Homo sapiens: one gene and its partners. The protein of the gene in region 4 interacts with the protein of the main gene of each other region in a biochemical or structural test. Each region holds a gene or a part of one and is shown on either strand. Other genes may lie near its edges.

Evidence for each region.
Region 1: the proteins of PABPC1 (region 4) and EIF4G1 form a complex in vitro, tested with the Homo sapiens proteins (2 studies listed by BioGRID and IntAct, with this or other methods).
Region 2: the proteins of PABPC1 (region 4) and ATXN2 are reported together in a solved structure, tested with the Homo sapiens proteins (2 studies listed by BioGRID and IntAct, with this or other methods).
Region 3: the proteins of PABPC1 (region 4) and GSPT1 are reported together in a solved structure, tested with the Homo sapiens proteins (3 studies listed by BioGRID and IntAct, with this or other methods).

What each region holds. Positions count from the first base shown.
Region 1 is NC_000003.12:184,323,916-184,329,070, reverse strand, and holds part of EIF4G1 (eukaryotic translation initiation factor 4 gamma 1), read right to left. Parts: coding exon 5,094-5,155; intron 4,871-5,093; coding exon 4,724-4,870; intron 4,194-4,723; coding exon 3,957-4,193; intron 3,803-3,956; coding exon 3,698-3,802; intron 3,592-3,697; coding exon 3,432-3,591; intron 3,376-3,431; exon of another isoform or gene 3,300-3,375; intron 3,221-3,299; coding exon 3,120-3,220; intron 2,545-3,119; coding exon 2,442-2,544; intron 2,191-2,441; coding exon 2,088-2,190; intron 1,856-2,087; coding exon 1,623-1,855; intron 1,486-1,622; coding exon 1,367-1,485; intron 1,242-1,366; coding exon 1,069-1,241; intron 441-1,068; coding exon 315-440; intron 163-314; coding exon 81-162; intron 1-80.
Region 2 is NC_000012.12:111,591,851-111,597,005, forward strand, and holds part of ATXN2 (ataxin-2), read right to left. Parts: intron 1-5,155. UniProt on the Homo sapiens protein: Involved in EGFR trafficking, acting as negative regulator of endocytic EGFR internalization at the plasma membrane.
Region 3 is NC_000016.10:11,883,992-11,889,146, forward strand, and holds part of GSPT1 (eukaryotic peptide chain release factor GTP-binding subunit ERF3A), read right to left. Parts: intron 3,760-5,155; coding exon 3,579-3,759; intron 2,941-3,578; coding exon 2,786-2,940; intron 2,621-2,785; coding exon 2,480-2,620; intron 1,284-2,479; coding exon 1,190-1,283; intron 1-1,189. UniProt on the Homo sapiens protein: GTPase component of the eRF1-eRF3-GTP ternary complex, a ternary complex that mediates translation termination in response to the termination codons UAA, UAG and UGA.
Region 4 is NC_000008.11:100,701,546-100,705,873, reverse strand, and holds the end of PABPC1 (polyadenylate-binding protein 1), read left to right. Parts: intron 1-200; coding exon 201-285; intron 286-817; coding exon 818-948; intron 949-1,483; coding exon 1,484-1,576; 3' UTR 1,577-1,577; exon of another isoform or gene 1,578-2,514; 3' UTR 2,515-2,958; downstream 2,959-4,328. UniProt on the Homo sapiens protein: Binds the poly(A) tail of mRNA, including that of its own transcript, and regulates processes of mRNA metabolism such as pre-mRNA splicing and mRNA stability.

The DNA of each region.
Region 1 (5,155 bases), on a different chromosome or scaffold from region 4:
GACCATGAAGCTTCAGGGCCACAGCAAACAGCCAAAACCACACCGTGGGAGGCATCTCTGGACTCCTGGCCCTCACTCACCATGCTTTTGCACAGGAGGCCCAGGATCTCCAGCAACAGGGAAGCAGCTTTGCCCAACGGTCTCAGAGGCTTTGTAATCTCCCTACAAGAAGAGAAAAACCTAATGCTGACAGCCTCCACAGTTCTCTCACCACTACTCCATCTCCCTCCAAACCAGGGTATCCAACCCAGCCATTTCCCTACCACCTTTCCTCTGGTCTTTACCTCCCCTGAATTCCACCCAGGGGGACTTACCTGAACAGCTCCCCCATGGGCACCCCACCTTCCTGCAGAATGGGTGTTACCAGTTCCGCTAGGTAGAGCCACACGTGGGGGATGTCAATTTCCATGTCCTCAGCCAATTCCAAGATTTCATACAACCTGCCAAGGGAATTCAAAGTCAAGACATTCTAGGCCAGGTCCCCACTCTCCTTCTGGGGCAACGTGGCATGGCTAGGGCATCAACTATGGAACCCCCAGGAACATTTTCTAGACATGGGGACAATTATTTCAAGCTAAGGCCACCTCTGTGTCCTTAGATGGTTTTCACCCCGCTTAACCCCCTAAAGTTATGCTGACCAGGATGGTCAAGGAACCCATACTGTTTTTTGGTTTTTTTTTTGAGACAGTTTTGCTTTTGTCACCCAGGCTGGAGTGCAATGGCACGATCTCGGCTCACTGCAACCTCCACCTCCCGGGTTCAAGCAGTTCTCCTGCCTCAGCCTCCGAGTAGCTGGGATTACTGTGCCACCACGCCTGGCTAATTTTTGTATTATTAGTAGAGACAGGGTTTCACCATGTTGGCCAGGCTGGTCTAGAACTCCCAACCTCACGTGATCCTCTAAGGAATCCAACCCACCTTGGCCTCCCAAAGTGCAGGGATTACAGGCATAAGCCACCACACCCGGCCAGGGAACCTACACTCTTATGCAAGGTTCCAAGGGTCCCAAAAAGGAGATAGAAAATTGTGGGTCTGTATAAGTGGGAGGCCCAGAGAAGCTGGTCATACCCTTGGTAGTACTGAGCAGTAGACAGATGCCCAGCACAGAGCAGCTGGTGCAGCAGCTGCCCCATATGCTCACGAGCAATGGCACTGCGCTCCAGCGTAGACTCGACACCATGCCGTACAAAGATGAAGAGCAAGGAGGGTGAGGCCAGCTCCTGCACGCACTGGACTGCCTCCTGAGGGGTGCAGGGCACAGCAGGAAGAGACCAGTCACTGTCTGACCCAGACCCCGGACCCCTATGCCTGCCAGCATGATCCCTCCCTGCCCACTCCTCAATCACACGCCGCTCCCACTGCCTACTTTCATGTCATTGAGATGGAGATATTCCTCAATGATAGCCTTGGATTTCTTCTCTAACTCCTCCTCAGAGAGAGCCGCCTTCAGGGGGCTCACTGGGGGTAGGGCAGCTTCTCGCTTCACTGTGGGAAGAGAACACAGATTAGAGGGACTTTTCAGTCTTCCCAGCAAACAAGATTTGGAGCTCTCAAAAAGCTGGGGACCAGCTAGTCCCAAGGCAGCCAATGCCTTTCCCTCCATTCCTCTCCCAGACTCTCACCGGCATCCCGCCCACGGTCCCGATCCTCCGTGAGGCTAGCTGCCTTGCGCAGCCCCTCAGGCTGGGAGGGCCGTTCTCTACTCCGCTCCTCCACTTCCTTGCTGAAGCTCCGCTTGGTAGCAGGTGTCCGCGCACGATCAAGCCGGTCCCCACGGTCCCCTCCCCGTTCACTCCGCTCTAGGCGGTCTCCTCGGTCTCCAGCTTTCTCGCCTCGTTCTCGGCTCAAGCTACTCCTGGAAGACAGACAGACAAATTTTCACTCACTTGCACTGCCCAGGCACTCATGTAATTACACAACATGCTGAGCAACTGTTGGGCCTTGTTCTTAGCATAATGAGTATGCCCCAATCTAACCCAAGGGCTCCAACCAGGACAGGTATGAAGAAATTTCCAACCTATGGCAACAACCAGAACCCAATCACGGTACCCCCAGTGTGAATAACAAAGATGTCCAGGAAACCTCACCTCTGCACCACACGTCTATTATCTGTGCTTTCTGTGGGTACCGCTTGTTGAAGGGCTGAGAAGCGATTCAAAGTACTAGTAGCTGGGCGAGCAGCTTCTGATGCTGGGGATGCAGAAAATCCGTATTAAAATCTTTTTCTCCTTTCCTGCATTTTATCCCCTACTTGCCAGTTTAGGACACTTGGTCCCAGTCCCAAAAGTAAAGCAGTTCAATCCCTGGAACCACAACACAAACCTCCTCTATTGCCCGCATTGCCTAACCACCTTGTACTGAAGGCCTCCCTAACAGAAAAGGCTCTGTCCTCAAGGGAGCTCTGACGGGTAACCACCCAGCTCCTGACACTGCCTCCATACCTGCGTCTGAGGGCTTGGCTCCTGAGCCTCCGCTGCTGCCCTTGCCCCAGCTCAGTCGCCCTCCAGGTGCAAAGAGCTGGTTGTTAGAATCGATGGAGCCAGGCTGAAGAAGAAAAGGGGAGTAGAATCATAGGTCCAACCCGGCTGAGTCCCTTGGCCAGCACCACCATATGCAACCAAACAGGTAGTGAATGGCCCAGTCCAGGGGTCAGAAAATCTTTTTTAATAAAGGGCCAGTCTCTATTGCAACTACTCAATTCTGCCACAGTAGCATGAAACCAGCTGTAGATGATAAAGGCATGCTGTGACTGTGTTCCAATAAAACTTCATGGACACTGACATTTACATTTTATTTAATTTCCACAGCATAAATTACCATTCACTTTTTGATTTTTCGCAACTTTAAAATGTAAAAACCACTACTGGGTCCTGGGATGTATGAATGGGCTGGATCTGGCACGTGTGTGTGTGTGTGTGTGTGTGTGTGTGTGTTTGCCAAACACTGGTCCAGACTAATGGGAGTACCACCCTCCCTCTACAGCTGGCAGTCCTGTCTCCAGCAATCCAACCAGTTAGTCTAAGAGGAAACATTCAGCTGTCACCTTCTCAACTTTAGAAAAGTGAAGGGACTAAGATCTAAACCTGAGCTGAATCACCCACTCCCACACACACCCCTACCTTGGTGATCTTGGTGAGTCGTGAGGTGTCAATGGGGCGGCTACCTTTGCTGATGGGAACTGTGTTCCAGCCACCATCATCCACAAGGGGAAGTCCACGGCCTGACACAAAAAGAGGGGCATACTGGAATAATGAATAAATCCTAGCAGCCCCTTCCCCTTGGGCCACCCCCAGCCTCCCTTCCTCAGATCCTCAGTTCCATCATGGTGTCTCAGTGGCCCAGACACGTGGCACTAACAGGAAGTCATCAGAGGAAAGTATAACCTCCCGGTCCCTTCACTGCTCCCTTCTCAATCCCAGCTTGGAACTCACTGATGGGAGGGCCTGGAGGACCGCCCCGACGCTTGTCACTGCCCTTGGCCATGAGCTGCTGCACTTTGATGTGCTCTCGATGTTCTTCCATCTCAGCCTCCTTATGGATCTGGTCAATGGTCTTGGGACCCTGATCCCCTCGGCGTGGCACCCAATTGCTCTGTGGAGACAGAGGGCCAGTCACGATGATGTCAGGGAAGGCAAGACAAGGCAGTGTCAGAAACTGGAGGCAGCAGGCTGGCAGTGGGGAGGAGGGGGACACACACCCCTCGCAGATCCAGCACGTCCTGCAGCATAAAGCGGATGCGGGATGACGTCTTCTTTTCTTTAATGATTTTTTCCATCTGGTTGAAATACTGATCCATTCGGGGCTAGGAAGGAGAAAGGCATCAGACCAGGAACTTCTCATGTCCCACCTATAACTGCAGGCCCCACCCCTCCTCAGGCCTTCCGCCCCATCATTGTGGGCTCAGTGAGCCCCACATATGCTTCAGCCCATCCCCCTCCAGATGCAAGGACCTCTACCTTGGCTTTTTCAAAGTCCAGGTCTTTGCCAATGGTGGTGAGCAGACGACAAAGGCACTCAAGGGACTCTTCATCATGGTTCTTAAGCAGTTTGACCACACAGTCATGCATTATTGCCTCTGTTAACATCTTCAGTTTGAACAACTCTCCAATAAACTTGATATTCCCTAAAGAGCGCCGCCGGGCTATGTCCCGAGCCTCTTCCAGCTCTTCCTTCAGGCGTCCTCGTTCCTCTGCCTGCCATTCACAGGACAGGGATTGTGTCAAAAAGATAACCAGCCACTCGGCTAAAACCCTTTTCTACCTGGATATCCAAACCTAGCAATAAGCACTCAGTCCTGAGGCCGGCTGGCTGGGCATAGTGGCTCATGCCTGTAATCCCATCAATTTGGGAGGCTGAGGCAGGCGGATCACTTGAGGTCAGGAGGAGTTTGAGACCAGCTTGGCCAACATGGTAAAACCCCGTCTCTATTAAAAATACAAAAAAATTAGCCAGGTATGGTGGCACATGCCTGTAATCCCAGCTACTTGGGAGGCTGAGGCAGGAGAATCGCTTGAACTCAGGAGGTGGAGGCTAGCCAAGATCACACCACTGCACTCCAGCCTGGGTGACAGAGCAAGACTGTCTCAAAAAGGAAAAAAAACGTCCTGAGCCAGAGAAATCCCCAAGACACCACTACCTCCATTCCAAATTCTACAGCTGAGTAGCATCTGGGTAAGGGAAGGAGGTAAGTGGTGAGTGGAATCGATAGTGGGTTTTCTCTCACCGTAGCAGCTTCATCCATCTCTTTTTGCTTCTTCTCAAAAACCTCATCATCATCTTTGTCTTTCTCAAACTCCTTCTGACATCGATTCAACAACAGCTTTCGGAAGTTCACAGTCACTGTTGGCTTTTCCGTAGTGGGCACTTTCAGCTGTAGGTCAGAGAGAATGTCACACTCAAGACTAGTCCTGGGCAGGGAAGGCCCTCCAAGAGCCTTTAACTACCTGACCCAGGAAGATCTCTGGCCCCAGCTCTGCCTCCTTCCAGCTGGAAGAGGCACAAGTTGGAGGGGAACCAAGAAGCTGGACTCAAGGAGTCTTGGGAATAGGAATGGGCAACCAGACCATTAGATTTAGAACCCACTGGAAACTAACCGCCATGAGGCAGCGGCACATGTTGGCATAGGCCACAGAGAAGTTGGGCTCTGAAATGGCCT
Region 2 (5,155 bases), on a different chromosome or scaffold from region 4:
GCAGGTGGATCGCTTAAGGTCAGGAGTTCGAGATGAGCCTAACCAACATGGTGAAACCCTGTCTCTGCTAAAAATACAAAAATTAGCTGAGTGGGGTAGCAGGCACCTGTAATCTCAGCTACTCAGAAGGCTGAGGCAGGAGAATCGCTTGAACCCGGGAAACAGAGGTTGCAGTGAGCTGAGATTGCACCACTGCACTCCAGCCTGGGAAAGAGCAAAACTGTCTCAAAAAAAAAAAAAACACCTTAGCTCATGAGGCTGGGCGGGGGTGGCTCACGCCTGTAATCCCAGCACTTTGGGAGGCCGAGGCAAGCGAATCACCTGAGGTCAGGAGTTCAAGAGCAGCCTGGCCAACATGGTGAAACTCCATATCTACTAAAAATGCAAAACTTAGCCAGGCATGGTGGCGGGTGCCTGTAATCCCAGCTATTCGGGAGGGCTAAGGCAGGAGAATTGCTTGAACCTGGGAGGCGGAGGTTGCAGTGAGCCAAGATCACGCCACTGCACTCCAGCCTGGGCGACAGAGACTCTGTCTCAAAAACAAACAAAAAAACCCTTAGATGGTAACAGTAACATCATAGATGACCCAGATATCCTTTGGAAAAAAACAAAAAAAACACAAGTACTTTCATTTAAAAAGATACGGCAGCGGCCAAGCACGGTGGCTCATGCCTGTAATCCCAGAACTTTGGGAGGCTGAGGCAGGTGGATCACCTGAGGTCAGGAGTTTGAGACCATTCTAGCCAACATGGTGAAACCCTGTCTCTACTAAAAATACAAAAATTAGCCAGGCGTGGTGGTGTGCGCATGTAGACCCAGCTACTCAGGAGGCTGAGGCAGGAGAATCACTTGAACCCGGGAGGCAAAGGTTGCAGTAAGCAGAGATCGTGCCACTGCACTCCAGCCTGGGCGACAGAGCAAGACTCCGTCTCAAAAAAAAAAAAAAAAAAAAAAGATAATAGGTGTGACTGTTAATAAACTGTTTACATCTCCGTTGAAGTTGTCACAATCACTTGAAATAGCTAAAAAAAAAAATAGGGTTTTGTTCATGCTCAACTATTTACACAACATCAAAATACTATCACTAGTCAAAACAGAAAATTGTAATTCTAGAGAACAATCTTCTAAAACCTTAAAATTCGTTTCAAAGTAAAAAAACAATACTTTGCTAAGGTGACAGTTCTAACACGGCTGTAGCTATTTAGGACAAAAAAATGAGATCCTCCTTTTTTTGTTTGTTTGTTTGTTTTGAGACAGAGTCTCGCTCTGTTGCCCAGGCTGGAGTGTAATGGCATGATCTCAGCTCACTGCAACCTCCGCACTCATTGCAACCTCCGGGATCAAGCAATTCTCTTCCCTCAGCCTCCCAAGAAGCTGGGATTACAGGCGCCCACCACCATGCCCGGCTAATTTTTGTATTTTTAGTAGAGATGGGGGTTTCACCATGTTGGCCAGACTAGTCTCAAACTCCTGACCCCAGGTGATCCACCCGCCTCAGCCTCCTAAAGTGCTGGGATTACAGGTATGAGCCACCGCGCCTGGCCTTGAGATCCTCCTTTAAGTCAAAATATATGGCTATTAAATAGCTACAATATGAGTTAACATCCCTTATGTAGAAGTATAAACCATTGCTAATTAGAGTAACACTGAAAATACAAGTTTACATTTAACCAAAAAAAGGAACACCATGACTGATCCCATGTTTTCACTGTTTCAGAATGTGGAATCTTTAAGCAACTACAGGCTTACATTTTTCTCTTAAAAAAAAAAAAAGAAAAAGAAAAAGAAAACCAAAGCAAGTTTTGGCCCAAACTTAAAAAGTTTATTTTCTCCACATACTTGAAACAAAAACTAAACTAATTAGGTAAAATACGTAAGCCCAAAAGAAAAACAAAACATGTCTCTTTGGTTAGTAATAGCCATCTACAATTTACCTCTAATGACCCTCAATGTCAATTAACTTTTTTGGTCTAACTTCAGAGATGGTTAGTATCAATGTGCACATAAAAGAATAACAAAGGATGATGCCATTTAAACCTTATAAATTACTAATGAAGCCACATGACTAATTAACCTAGATAAAAAGCAAACGGCTAAATACCCAACCTTCAAATCTTTGCTCAAATGTTAGCTCCTCAATTAAGTTCCCCCAATCCATTTAAAATTGTAACTCATTCCCCTCCCCACACTCCCTATACCTTTAATCTGCTTTCTTCTAATTCCATAGCTCTTATACACTATTATACATAGGCTGGTAATTTAATGTCTCATTGTCTGCCTAGTCACATTAGAATGTAAACTCCAAAAGGACAATATGTTTGCTTTATTCACTGATTCATCCCAAAAACCCCATGTACATAGATGCTTCAATAAAGCTGTATTCAACGTAGATATTTTAGGCCCTTCTACAAGATATTTAACTGCAAAAGATGAACAGTCTCACTGAAATTTAAATGGAAGCATGATGAACAACTACATTAAATCACAGCACATTTTTTTTTTTTTTGAGATAGAGTCTCACTCTGTCTCCCAGGCTGGAGTGCAGTGGCACAATCTCAGCTGACTGCAACCTCCGCCTCCTGGGCTCAAGTGATGCTCCTGCCTCAGCCTCCCAAGTAGCTGGGATTACAGGCGCCTGGCTAAACAGCACAATTTTTAAGTTGCAATGCCTCAAGAGAAAGAAGCAGTAAAAATACTAAGCTGAAAATCACTAAAAGAAAAATATTTTATTCAGACTGAATCCTGTATCCCAAGCAATTCTAATGTCATATTATTTAGGTTTAGGAATAGAGTAACAATTGTAAATCCATATTTTTATTTTTAATGGGGAAGGGAATGTAGAAGAAGAAGAGTCAACCAGCGAAAATTCCCAATAGTGCCATGAAATTACAAAAAAGTTACCAAAAATAACTTGGTCATAGGCTAGCAGCTAATAAAAAACACTTTCAGATGAAAAAGAAAGGTTAACAACAACAACAAAGCTTTAGAACAGTTCCTCAGGAATTTCATTCCTGCACTTTACTCAGTACTATCAGCACGACAGATAAACCAAGTACCCTCATTAATAATAATGGTTACAGGTTTCAAAACATCTTCACATATATTACCTTATTAAATCCTCAGAGGAACCAAATTAAACTCAAATATCAATAATCCAGTAACTAACAAAAGCACTTAATAATATATGCACTTGACAGTAAAAATGCAATTTTTCCTTTAAAAATTCCCCACAATATTTGACAAACTACAAAGAAACCATTCCATGGAAGAGCAACCTTCTTGACACTGGAAGTAATACAAGTCTTCTAAAGAATAATAGAGCACCGCTAGCAAGAGCCATAAAAATCCTGAAGCCCTCTGAACTAGTAAAACCACTCTTGGTAACTTTCTCTAAGGAAATAATTACACTGAAGCAAAAAGCTATTTAAAAATGTTCACTGCACCACTATCTATAACAAAAAAGTGGAAACCCAATTCCCAACAATAGAATGGTTAAGTAAAAACCTTACAGCCGGGCGCAGTGGCTCACGCCTGCAATCCCAGCACTTTGGGAGGCCGAGGCGGGCGCATCACCTGAGGTCGGTAGTACGAGACCAAACTGGCCAACATGGTGAAACCTTGTCTCTACCAAAAATACAAAAATTAGCCAAGCGTGGTGGAACATTCCTGTAGCCCCAGCTACTCAAGAGGCTGAGGTGGGAGAATCGCTTGAACCCAGGAGTCAGAGGCTGCAGTGAGCTGAGATCGTACCACTGCACTTCAGACTGGGCAAACACCGAGACTCTGTCTCAAAAAAAAAAAAAAAAATTTACATTTACAATACAACGTTCAGGGGAAAAAAGCTAACTACAAAATAACATACACAATCACCTCTACTACATAAAAATGAAAAGGTAAAAAGCAAAAATAAGAATTAGACTGATGGTTGGGGGCAGTGGCTCATTCCTGCCTGTAATCCTGGCACTTTGGGAGGCCGAGGCTGGCGAATCACTTGAGGTCAGGAGGAGTTCGAGACCAGCCTGGCCAACATGGTGAAACCCCATCTCTACTAAAAATACAAAAATTGGCCAGGGGCAGTAGCTCACGCCTGTAATCCCAGCACTTTGGGAGGCCAAGGCAGGCGGATCACTTGAGGTCAGGAGTTCGAGACCAGCCTGGCCAACATGGCAAAATCCCGTCCTCACTAAAAATACAAAAAAATTAGCCAGGTGTGGTAGCACGAACCTGTAATCCCAGCTACTGGGGAGGCTGAGGCTGGAGAATCACTTAAATGAACCCAGGAGACAGAGACTGCAGTAAGCTGAGATCAGGCCACTGCACTCCAGCCTGGGCGACAGAGTGAGATTCCATCCAAAACACACACACACACACACACACACACACACACACACACACAAAATTAGATTACAGTAAAATTATGTTCTAATATTGTGATTACATTATCTTTCCTAAAACAGCCACCTTCAAAAATATATATAACAAAGAACAAAATAAATCACTTCTGAAAGTCATGAAAAACTATTCACACACACACACACAAAGTCAAATTATGAAATGTTTCTTAAAGCAGATGTGAATTTCCAGACTTTCAAGCATATTTTGCTATCTCGAAACTTGTCAAACCGAATGCTGCATTTTTTTTCACCCTTGCTCTCAGAGACTTATTTTCACTGTTGATACGCACAAACCTAAGTGAGGAGATTCTAGAAGCTGAAACTTATTTACAAGGAATGCAGGAAAGTGATTCAAATTCAAAGTAATTCTACAAGTACATTAACGATCTGTTCAAGAATAAAACTTCACATTACACAAATCCAACACAGTAAACAAAATTTCACCTATTCATCAGAAAGAATAAGGGCTGCCATTTAGGTCTCAAGTAAAAGAACTTAAAGCAAGGAAAAATCTAAATTAACCTTAAATTGTTGTAAAGCCTCAAGGAACAGAAAAAAGACCTTGTGGTACTAAAACATTCCAAATATCTTTGATCACTCAAACTACTCAGGAGCAAATTCTCTTATAATCTAATTTTTAAGCCTAGTAGTCAATGCAACTTAATAACCTTAGTTTTAATGTTTATATATTTGAACATGTTGAATTATCTGCCAAATCTCTTCCTAATACCTAAGAAAGTAAAAACAGAATACATCCTTTT
Region 3 (5,155 bases), on a different chromosome or scaffold from region 4:
CCTGATCTCTAGGCCTGTTTCCTCATATATAAAATTGGAAAAAGCAATACTTGTTAAAGAAATTTAGAACGGAGCTAATTAAAGAATAATGTATTTGAGGAGGGGAAAACATTACATACATTGATACCGCAAAACTTAAAAATTCAAGTTGGAAATCCAGTTAAAAACAAGGAAGTTTATTTTTTTTAAGACGAACATCCAGTGCTGGTGAGGCTGTGGTAAAACTAACACTCATGCTGCTAGTGGTGACAGAAGTTAGCACAGTATTTTTGCGATGCTATTTACCAATATGCATCAACTTTAATAAGAAAATCCTTTGAGCCCAGCAGTTACATCTATGAGTTTATCACTAAGATATGATCCCTGGCTCATCGGGAAACAGCTAAAATAAACTAAACTTGTTGAATAAATTATGGTCTATCTATACCACTAATATAAAGCCATTAAGAAAAAGACATCAATGTTATGTTGTTAATAAAGTTTTTGGACCGGGCATGGTGGCTCATGCCTGTAAGCCCAGCACTTTGGGAAGCCAAGGCGGGCGGATCACCTGAGGTTAGGAGTTCGAGACCAGCCTGGCCAACATGGTGAAAACCGGTCTCTACTAAAAATACAAAAAACAATTAGCTGGATGCGGTGGCACACGCCTGTAGTCCCAGCTACTCAGGAGGCTGAGGCTGGAGAATCTCTTGAACCTGGGAGGCAGAGGTTGCAGTGAGCTGACATCACACCACTGCACTCTAGCCTGGGTGACAGAGTGAGACTCCGTCTCAAAAAAAAAAAAAAAAAAGAAGGCCAGGTACGGTGGCTCACGCCTGTAATCCCAGCACCTTGGGGGAGGCCGAGGCAGGTGGATCACAAGGTCAGGAGATCGAGACCATCCTGGCTGACACAGTGAAACCCCGTCTCTACTAAAAATATAAAAAATTAGCTGGGCGTGGTGGCGGGAGCCTGTAGTCCTAGCTACTCAGGAGGCTGAGGCAGGAGAATCACTTGAACCAAGGAGGCAGAGCTTGCAGTGAGCTGAGATCGCGCCACTGCACTCCAGCCTGGGGGACAGAGTGCAAGATTCTGTCAAAAAAAAAACAAGAAAGAAAAGAAAAGAAAAAAAGTTTTCAAAACTAGAAACAAAATGCACAACAATGATTTCCCCTCCCAGGAAACCCAATTTCTTTAACATTTTGGGTACCTTGTACTTATCCACAATTGGCAGCCTGATTGGTCCATCAACTGATCTATTGAAGTTCGGCAAATTATCCAGATATGGAATAAACGGTAATCCACTGAGAACATAACAACAAAGCCATTAAAGGAAGTCAACATAAATATCAAAATGTTAAGTTACATGACTATAAACAGCTTCTAATAATATTTTCATTCTACTCATGTATTCTTCCCATTCAACCACTTTATTATCCATTTCATCTCACTTATTCCACAGAAAACTATTATAAAACTGCTCAGTATAAGGCTTCCTCATAAACTTATTAAAATTTAGAGAAATATTTTATAGCAAATAGCCTACATGTAATAAATTGACTATATTACTTTTTATGGACTTTTCCAGCTATGAAACCAAGATTCTATAAAATAATTTCCCCTTTAAACATACAGTATTGGCTGCGTGCAGTGGCTCATGCCTATAATCCCAGCACTTTGGGAGGCCGAAAGGCAGGTGCATCTCTTGAGCCCAGGAGTTCGACACCAGCCTGGGCAACATGGTGAATCTGTCTCTACTAAAAATACAAAAATCAGCCGGGTGCGGTGGCATGTGCCTACAGTCCCTACGACTTGGGAGGCTGAGGTGGGAGGATCTCTTGAGCTGGGAGGCAGAGGTTGCAGTGAGCCGAGATCATGCCACTGCACTCCAGCCTGGTTAACAGAGTGAAAACCTGTTTCAAAAAAACAAACCAAAAAAAAGAAACACGGAGTTCAAGAATAAACTCGTATTTATGGTCATTTGATTTTCAAAGAGGGAGCCAAATCAATTCAATGAAAAAAGAATAGTCTTTTCAACAAATTGTGTGTAAACAATTAATATACAAAAACAAAACAAACCTACACATAGACCTTACATCTTACACAAAAGTTAACTCAAAATCAAATACATATCTAAATGTAAAAAACTTCAAAAATAAAACCTTTTGTGCTTCAAAGGACACCATCGAGAAGTGAAAAAAGGCAATCCATAAAGTGGGAGAAAATACTTGCTATAATCATATTGTAGCTGATAAGGGACTGGTAGCCAGTATTAAAAAGAACTCTTAGGACTCAGTAACAAAATGACAACCCAGTTTAAAAATGGGCAAAGATCTTAGTATTTTTAAAGCCAAGGTTACATTTAATATTTTCTTAAATTACTTATAAAGATATATGCTCAAAAGCATATGTTAACATGTTACTCAGCATATGTCTTTATAAGTAATTTAAGTAATAACATCCTTTTCCTTTTTAAAAAAAGGAAAAAACAGTTACTTACATGTACCAAGGACAGAAATCCGACTGCTCTTTGAGATTTGCTCCAGTAAGTCCTGAGCAGGGCATAAAGTGAATGTCCTTTTTGGGATTGAAGCCAACTTTTTTCAAAAATGGCACTAGTTTCTCCTTACATTCTTCATATCTGCAATTATAATGTAACCAAAATAACTCAATTATAATGTAAACCAAGAACTCTAGTTTCCTAAGTAAACAGATTAAGGTTTAGAAAAACCCTAGAGAAAAAGTCGTACAATAACAAAACCATCCTTAATCCCACTAACATAAAATACCAGACATCTACGCTCACCTCTCATTGCTCCAATTTACTGTTGGATCATCCATCTTATTAATTAGCACAATTAGGTGTTTTACACCTGCTGTCTTTGCCAACATTGCATGTTCTCTTGTCTGTCCTCCTTTTTCAAATCCAGTTTCAAACTCTCCTTTCCTGGCTGAGATTACCTAATTCCAAGAAAGGAAACAGTTTACTCCTTCGCCTTCAGGCATACCCTTATGGCAGTAAAACATCTTTCCTTTCAGTTATATCACGAGTTTTTTTTTTTTTTTTTGCAAGAAAATAGAAGCAAACGAGTTATGACGTACCTGCTTTTGAATGTCACAAATCAAACAATGTCTAGATGCTTCCAATCCCCCACATTCCCAAAATCTAGTATACCTGCATATTTTAAAATTCCAACATTTACTTTCTAGCTATTGTAACTACAAAGGAAAAAAAATTGTGATCTACTACCAGTACATTGTGAAAAGCGCAAAATGACTGAAGACCGTATGAAACAGATGGTTTCCTATTCATTTTTTACCCATGGTGCCTAACGGTGGGCTTGGCATTTAATGGAGACTAAGTTCTGACATGGTAATAGATAATAGCAACAGGAGAGAAAAGGTGAAACGTATTTTCAGAAGTAAATCAAATTTTGAAGATTTCTTGAAGAGAGATTAGTATGATGAAAACTGTGACCGTGTACATCATTATATTTCACTGCAACCTGAATTTGAGCTTTTAGAAGATAAATTCAAATTTAAAGATATAAGCGGGGCTACTAACAAATATACAGATGGACTGGAAATGTCTTTCTTACCAGCACAGCCAAATCAGCTTGAGAGGCACCACCAATCATATTTGGGACAAAACTCTTGTGGCCAGGGGCATCTAGAATTGTGAAATGCTTCTTTTCGGTTTCAAAATAGGCACGACCCACTTCTACTGTTTTACCCTTGTCTCGTTCTTCCTGATTTGTGTCTAAGGCCCAAGACAAGTACCTGAAATAATTTTTAAAAAAAGAACAATATTCCTAAGAACATCAGAGTTTTTAGGATATTCTTCACCATTAAAGATATAATGGATGACACACAACACCTAAATCACGAACAAGATTGGTGAAATGAAAATTGAGCCGGGTGCGGTGGCTCACATCTGTAATCTGAGCACTTTGGGAGGCCAAGGCGGCGGATCACAAGGTCAGGGGTTCGACACCAGCCTGACCAACATGGTGAAGCCCTGTCTCTACCGAAAATACAAAAATTAGCTGGGTGTGGAGGAGCCCACCTGTAGTACTTAGGAGACTGAGGCAGGAGAATCGCTTGAACCTGGGAGGAGGAGGTTGCAGCGAGCCAAGACCGTGCCATTGCACTCCAGCCTGGGCGACAGAGCAAGGCTCCGTCTCAAAAGAAAACAAAGAAATTGAAAGAATAGGGCTGGGCGCAGTGGCTCACGCCTGTAATCCCAGCACTTTGGGAGGCCGAGGCTGGCAGATCACCTGAGGTCAGGAGTTCGAGACTAGCCTGGCTAATATGATGAAACCTCATCTCTACTAAAAATACAAAAGTTGGGCATAGTGGTGCACACCTGTAGTCACAGCTATTTCGAAAGCTGAGGCAGGACAATCGCTTGAAGCTGGGAGGTAGAGGTTGCAGTGAGCCAAGATCGTGCCATCGCACTCCAGGCTGGGCAACAGAGGGAGACTCTGTCTCTCAAAAAAAAAAAAAAAGGGCTAGGTGCAGTGGCTCATGCTTGTAATCCAAGCACTTTGGGAGGCCAAGGCAGGCGGATCACCTGAGGTCAAGAGATTGAGACCATCCTGGCCAACATGGTGAGACCCCATCTCTACTAAAAATACAAAAATTAGCTGGGCATGGTGGCGGGCGCCTGTAGTCCCAGCTACTCGGGAGGCTGAGGCAGGAGAATCGCTTGAACCCAGGAGGCGGAGGTTGCAGTGAGCTGAGATCGCGCCACTGCACTCCAGCCTGGTGACACAGTGAGACTCCGTCTCAAAAAAATAAATAAATAAAATAAAACTGAAAGAATGTATTATTTTGATTCAAACCCTTAGAGCTTTTATATAAACGCAGTCAATTATACCATCTAGAACTTTATGGCAAGTTGACTACACAGAAAGACTAACTACAAATGCCAATATCACTGTGTGTTAAGTGATAATGAGCTCCCTTATTACTTCATTTTTATACTCACATGGCACAAAATACAACACAAATAATGGCTGTCTTGAGAGTTAAAGGGTAATAATAAAACTTTTTTGGATGGATGCTGTGGCTCACGCCTGTAATTTCAGCATTCTAGGAGGCTGAGGCAGGCAGATCACAAGGTCAGGAGATTGAGACCATCGTAGCTAACACGGTGAAACCCTGTCTCTACTAA
Region 4 (4,328 bases):
CCATCTCAAAAAGAAAAAAAATGTATCTGTGATACATAGTATATAATAACTACTTTGGCTTCTTTCTAATTCGCTCACTCAACTTCTCCACCTCATGTTTCGATGGAAGTCTACCACTTCAGCAGATGTCCATTGATGACTATTTGTATTTGCCATCTTTTTCTGTGCTTTAAACTTAAGAGTTCTCATTTTCTGTCTAGCCTGCTGTTCATGTACAAGGTCAGGAACCTTTGACTGCTTCCATGTTGGCATCTGCCCCTCCTCAAGAGCAAAAGCAAATGTTGGGTGAGTACTTCTGTCCCACCTTGTCAGTTCAGAAAGACTAGAAAATATAGGAATCACTTAGGCACTAGGTCAATCAATTGACAGCTAGGGCAGTGGAATTGATCTGAATTGGCATGAATGATTATGATAGTACAGTTGGTCTGCCTAATTAAAACCACTGGAAAGCCAATAAGAAAATGTATTGTTAGTAATAAATAGGGTAGTAGGGCATTACTCACCATGGGCCCTCACTACATTTTTGAGAGAAGGAATTTGAAGCAAATGAGAAGAAAACTTGTGACTTTGCCTGAACACCGATTTAACAACCTAATGGTAACATTGCTTAATTGGCAAGCTGATAATATCAAGAGTTAATTGCCTTGTGGCAGATTTTATTCTGTCTTCCCATGAAGACATAATGAAATTGTGGATTATGGGTTATTATATACGTGAGACAGAAGTATGGTTCTTAAACCCCAGTTTAATGTGGTAATTCAATGCAGTTAAAAACTTTTTTTTATTGAAGGGAGTTTTTGAATGTTTCTGTTCCTAGGTGAACGGCTGTTTCCTCTTATTCAAGCCATGCACCCTACTCTTGCTGGTAAAATCACTGGCATGTTGTTGGAGATTGATAATTCAGAACTTCTTCATATGCTCGAGTCTCCAGAGTCACTCCGTTCTAAGGTGATTTAAATTTATTTACCAAGTTGCCTCTTACACAGTTATTACGTGGCTTTTTATGGGGACTTAATTGTACAGAACACTTACATCGTGTTATATATAAGCCATGTACAGTTGTAAAGTCTGCATAATAACCTGTGGCGCTATTTATCCCCATTTTATAGATAGGTAAACTGAAACAGGCTGAATAATTTGCCAAATGCTCACACAGCTCTTAAGTGGCAGAGCCTGGCTTCAAATCCCATCAGCTCCAACAGCCATACTCTCAACTGCTGCTGCTTTCTCTAGTGGAGAAAGAGAAATATTTTTCGAGTGTGGGGAGGACAAGGAAAGAGTAGTGCAGGGGAGCGATTCATAATTCTAGAATAGTGGTGTAATAGAACTCAAAATTGAATGGATATAGTTGTTTAGTGTAACAATTTATACTTTCATTTGAGGGAAGAAACTTATCTTTGTTGGGAATTGGTATGTTACCATTATGAAACTCTTTATTTCCATTCCTTTCCTGAACCAGTTTATCTGTTTTCCCCTTTTTTAGGTTGATGAAGCTGTAGCTGTACTACAAGCCCACCAAGCTAAAGAGGCTGCCCAGAAAGCAGTTAACAGTGCCACCGGTGTTCCAACTGTTTAAAGTGAGCTTTTCCCTCTGGTTTGTTGTTTTAAGCTTGTTTTCTTCATCTTTTATAAAGTTTGTTGAGCATATTTTGAAATGTACATAGCAAAAGATCATTTTACAGTTCATTTAAATGTATTGCTAATTTTTCAAGGAAAAGTGGAACTAACTATAGAGGAATTAAAGGAATTTTACCCGTTAACTGTTGGATTTTTAAAATCCCAGGACTTTCAGGTGGTGTTTTTTTTTTTTTTTTTTTTTGAGATGGAGTTTCGTTCTGTCGCCCAACCTGGAGTGCATTGACGCGATCTCGGCTCACTGCAACCTCCACCTCCCAGGTTCAAGCAATTCTCCTGCCTCGGCCTCCCGAGCAGCTGGGATTAACAGGCCCATGCCTGCCACCGTGCCCAGCTAATTTTTGTATTTTTACTAGACTTGGGGTTTTGCCATGTTGGCCAGGCTGGTCTGGAACTTCTGACCTCAAGTGATCCGCCCACCTCGGCCTCCCAAAGTCTTGAAATTACAGGCGTGAGCCACTGCGCCCTGCCAGATTTTGTATAGTAATATATATATAAAATGACCTGTCACAGGTTGGCTTTCATAGTTTTACCTTTCCTTTTTGGGTGGTGCCCTTGGGTCTCTACTACTGTCTTTCATCACTCCCAAGAAATTGAGTAGTGCAGCCAGGATCAGGACCAGGGATTGGCAAATGTTTTTTGTAAAGGGCCAGATAGGAAATATTTTGGGCTTTGAGGACTGTGTTATCTCTGAAATGATCTTGTTCCAGTGTTACCATGTCAAGACAACCATAGATAGTATGTATACAAATGAACAGGTATGGCTGTGTTCCAGTAAAACTATGGATAAAAACAACCACATTGCATTTGGCTAAGGGCTTTAATTTGCTACTGACAAGTGATAGTCCTGGTCTTAATTTGTTTTTTTAACATTTACAGATTGATCAGGGACCATGAAAAGAAACTTGTGCTTCACCGAAGAAAAATATCTAAACATCGAAAAACTTAAATATTATGGAAAAAAAACATTGCAAAATATAAAATAAATAAAAAAAGGAAAGGAAACTTTGAACCTTATGTACCGAGCAAATGCCAGGTCTAGCAAACATAATGCTAGTCCTAGATTACTTATTGATTTAAAAACAAAAAAACACAAAAAAATAGTAAAATATAAAAACAAATTAATGTTTTATAGACCCTGGGAAAAAGAATTTTCAGCAAAGTACAAAAATTTAAAGCATTCCTTTCTTTAATTTTGTAATTCTTTACTGTGGAATAGCTCAGAATGTCAGTTCTGTTTTAAGTAACAGAATTGATAACTGAGCAAGGAAACGTAATTTGGATTATAAAATTCTTGCTTTAATAAAAATTCCTTAAACAGTGCACGGATTTGCTTTTTTTCAAAGTCTTTATAATTGCCATGCATAAATAGGTAATATCTTAATGGTGCTGAGCCGACATAAGAATCTTTTATGAAAAATGTACTGTTAAGTTCAGGGGGTCTATTGGTTTTATGTAAAAGGCACAAGACAATTCCTGTAGTGCATTTTATGAGTTAAGGTTTCCATACGGATTATTGAAACAATTTGTTACATGTATTTGTTACATGATCTTAATATTTCATGTACAAGACTGACACCCATCCACTTTTGAAGATAAGCCAGTTTATGGGGTTTTTTTTTTTGCGGGTAGAGGTTGGGTCTCCCTATTTTGTCCAGGCTGGTCTCGAATTCCTGGGCTCAAGCATAAGCATAAGGCTTATTCCTGCATAAGCCACCATGCCTGGCCTGCCAGTTGATGATTATATTGAGGTTTCTAGGCTATGAGATTATTAGCTTAAACCCTTACATGATATAAAACAATGATAGCTACTCTTGAAGAGGATGTAGATAAGATAGGCTTTGGTATGATTTTAATATTAAAGTGTTAAAAGTTATGATTAGTTTTAAACCTTATTCTTGTAACGTCTTTAATTTGGTAGTTCATGATTGTGGCTTAATTTTAGTGTAATACCCAAAGTACTTGTTAAAGGTGAAGATGTGGGGTTCTTTTAGGAGGATGGATTTAGAAGATCTAGCCTGGAGTATAGGGTATCTGCATAAAACTGATAACCCAGGCAGTTTACACTTTTAGGTTTTAATTTCTAACCGATCATTCTCTGTGGACTACTGCTAGAGTTAGCTTTCTAAGTTAAACGTGTGGTTATCTCATTCCATGCTAAACAAACAATTCTATTAACCTTCGGGATTAAATAAATCTAAACAAAACCCTAGCTTGTGACAGTGGCAGCCCTCAATGCTGATGAAGCCTAGTGATGCTTCTGTACCTAGAATGCTTTTCGCTTTGGCTTCTTGTTTTGAAACTCAAGATAATACAAACTCCACCCTCCTACCCTTTAGCATAGAACAGTGCATCCAGTGGGGATCCTGATCATTTTGTATTTTGCCTCACAACAGACATACCCTCTCAGGGGCTGATGCTTCATTACAATTTTTTTTTTTGAAAGATTTTCTTCATTGTGTTAAGGCAGAGAAACACCATATTTTTTCAAAATTGTAATACAAAATGGTTCAAATTTTGAGGTTTTAAAAGAGCCGGCTATTTTGAGACACTTGAAGTCAAATCTATAAAGTTCACACACTAGTTCACACACCAAAATCTAGTGCCAGGTTGGGTTCATAGCTTTATACGTTAGGTAGCTGATTGATTGGAAGTCAGTATTTGTTGTGAGATTCGAAGATAAGTCATATTCA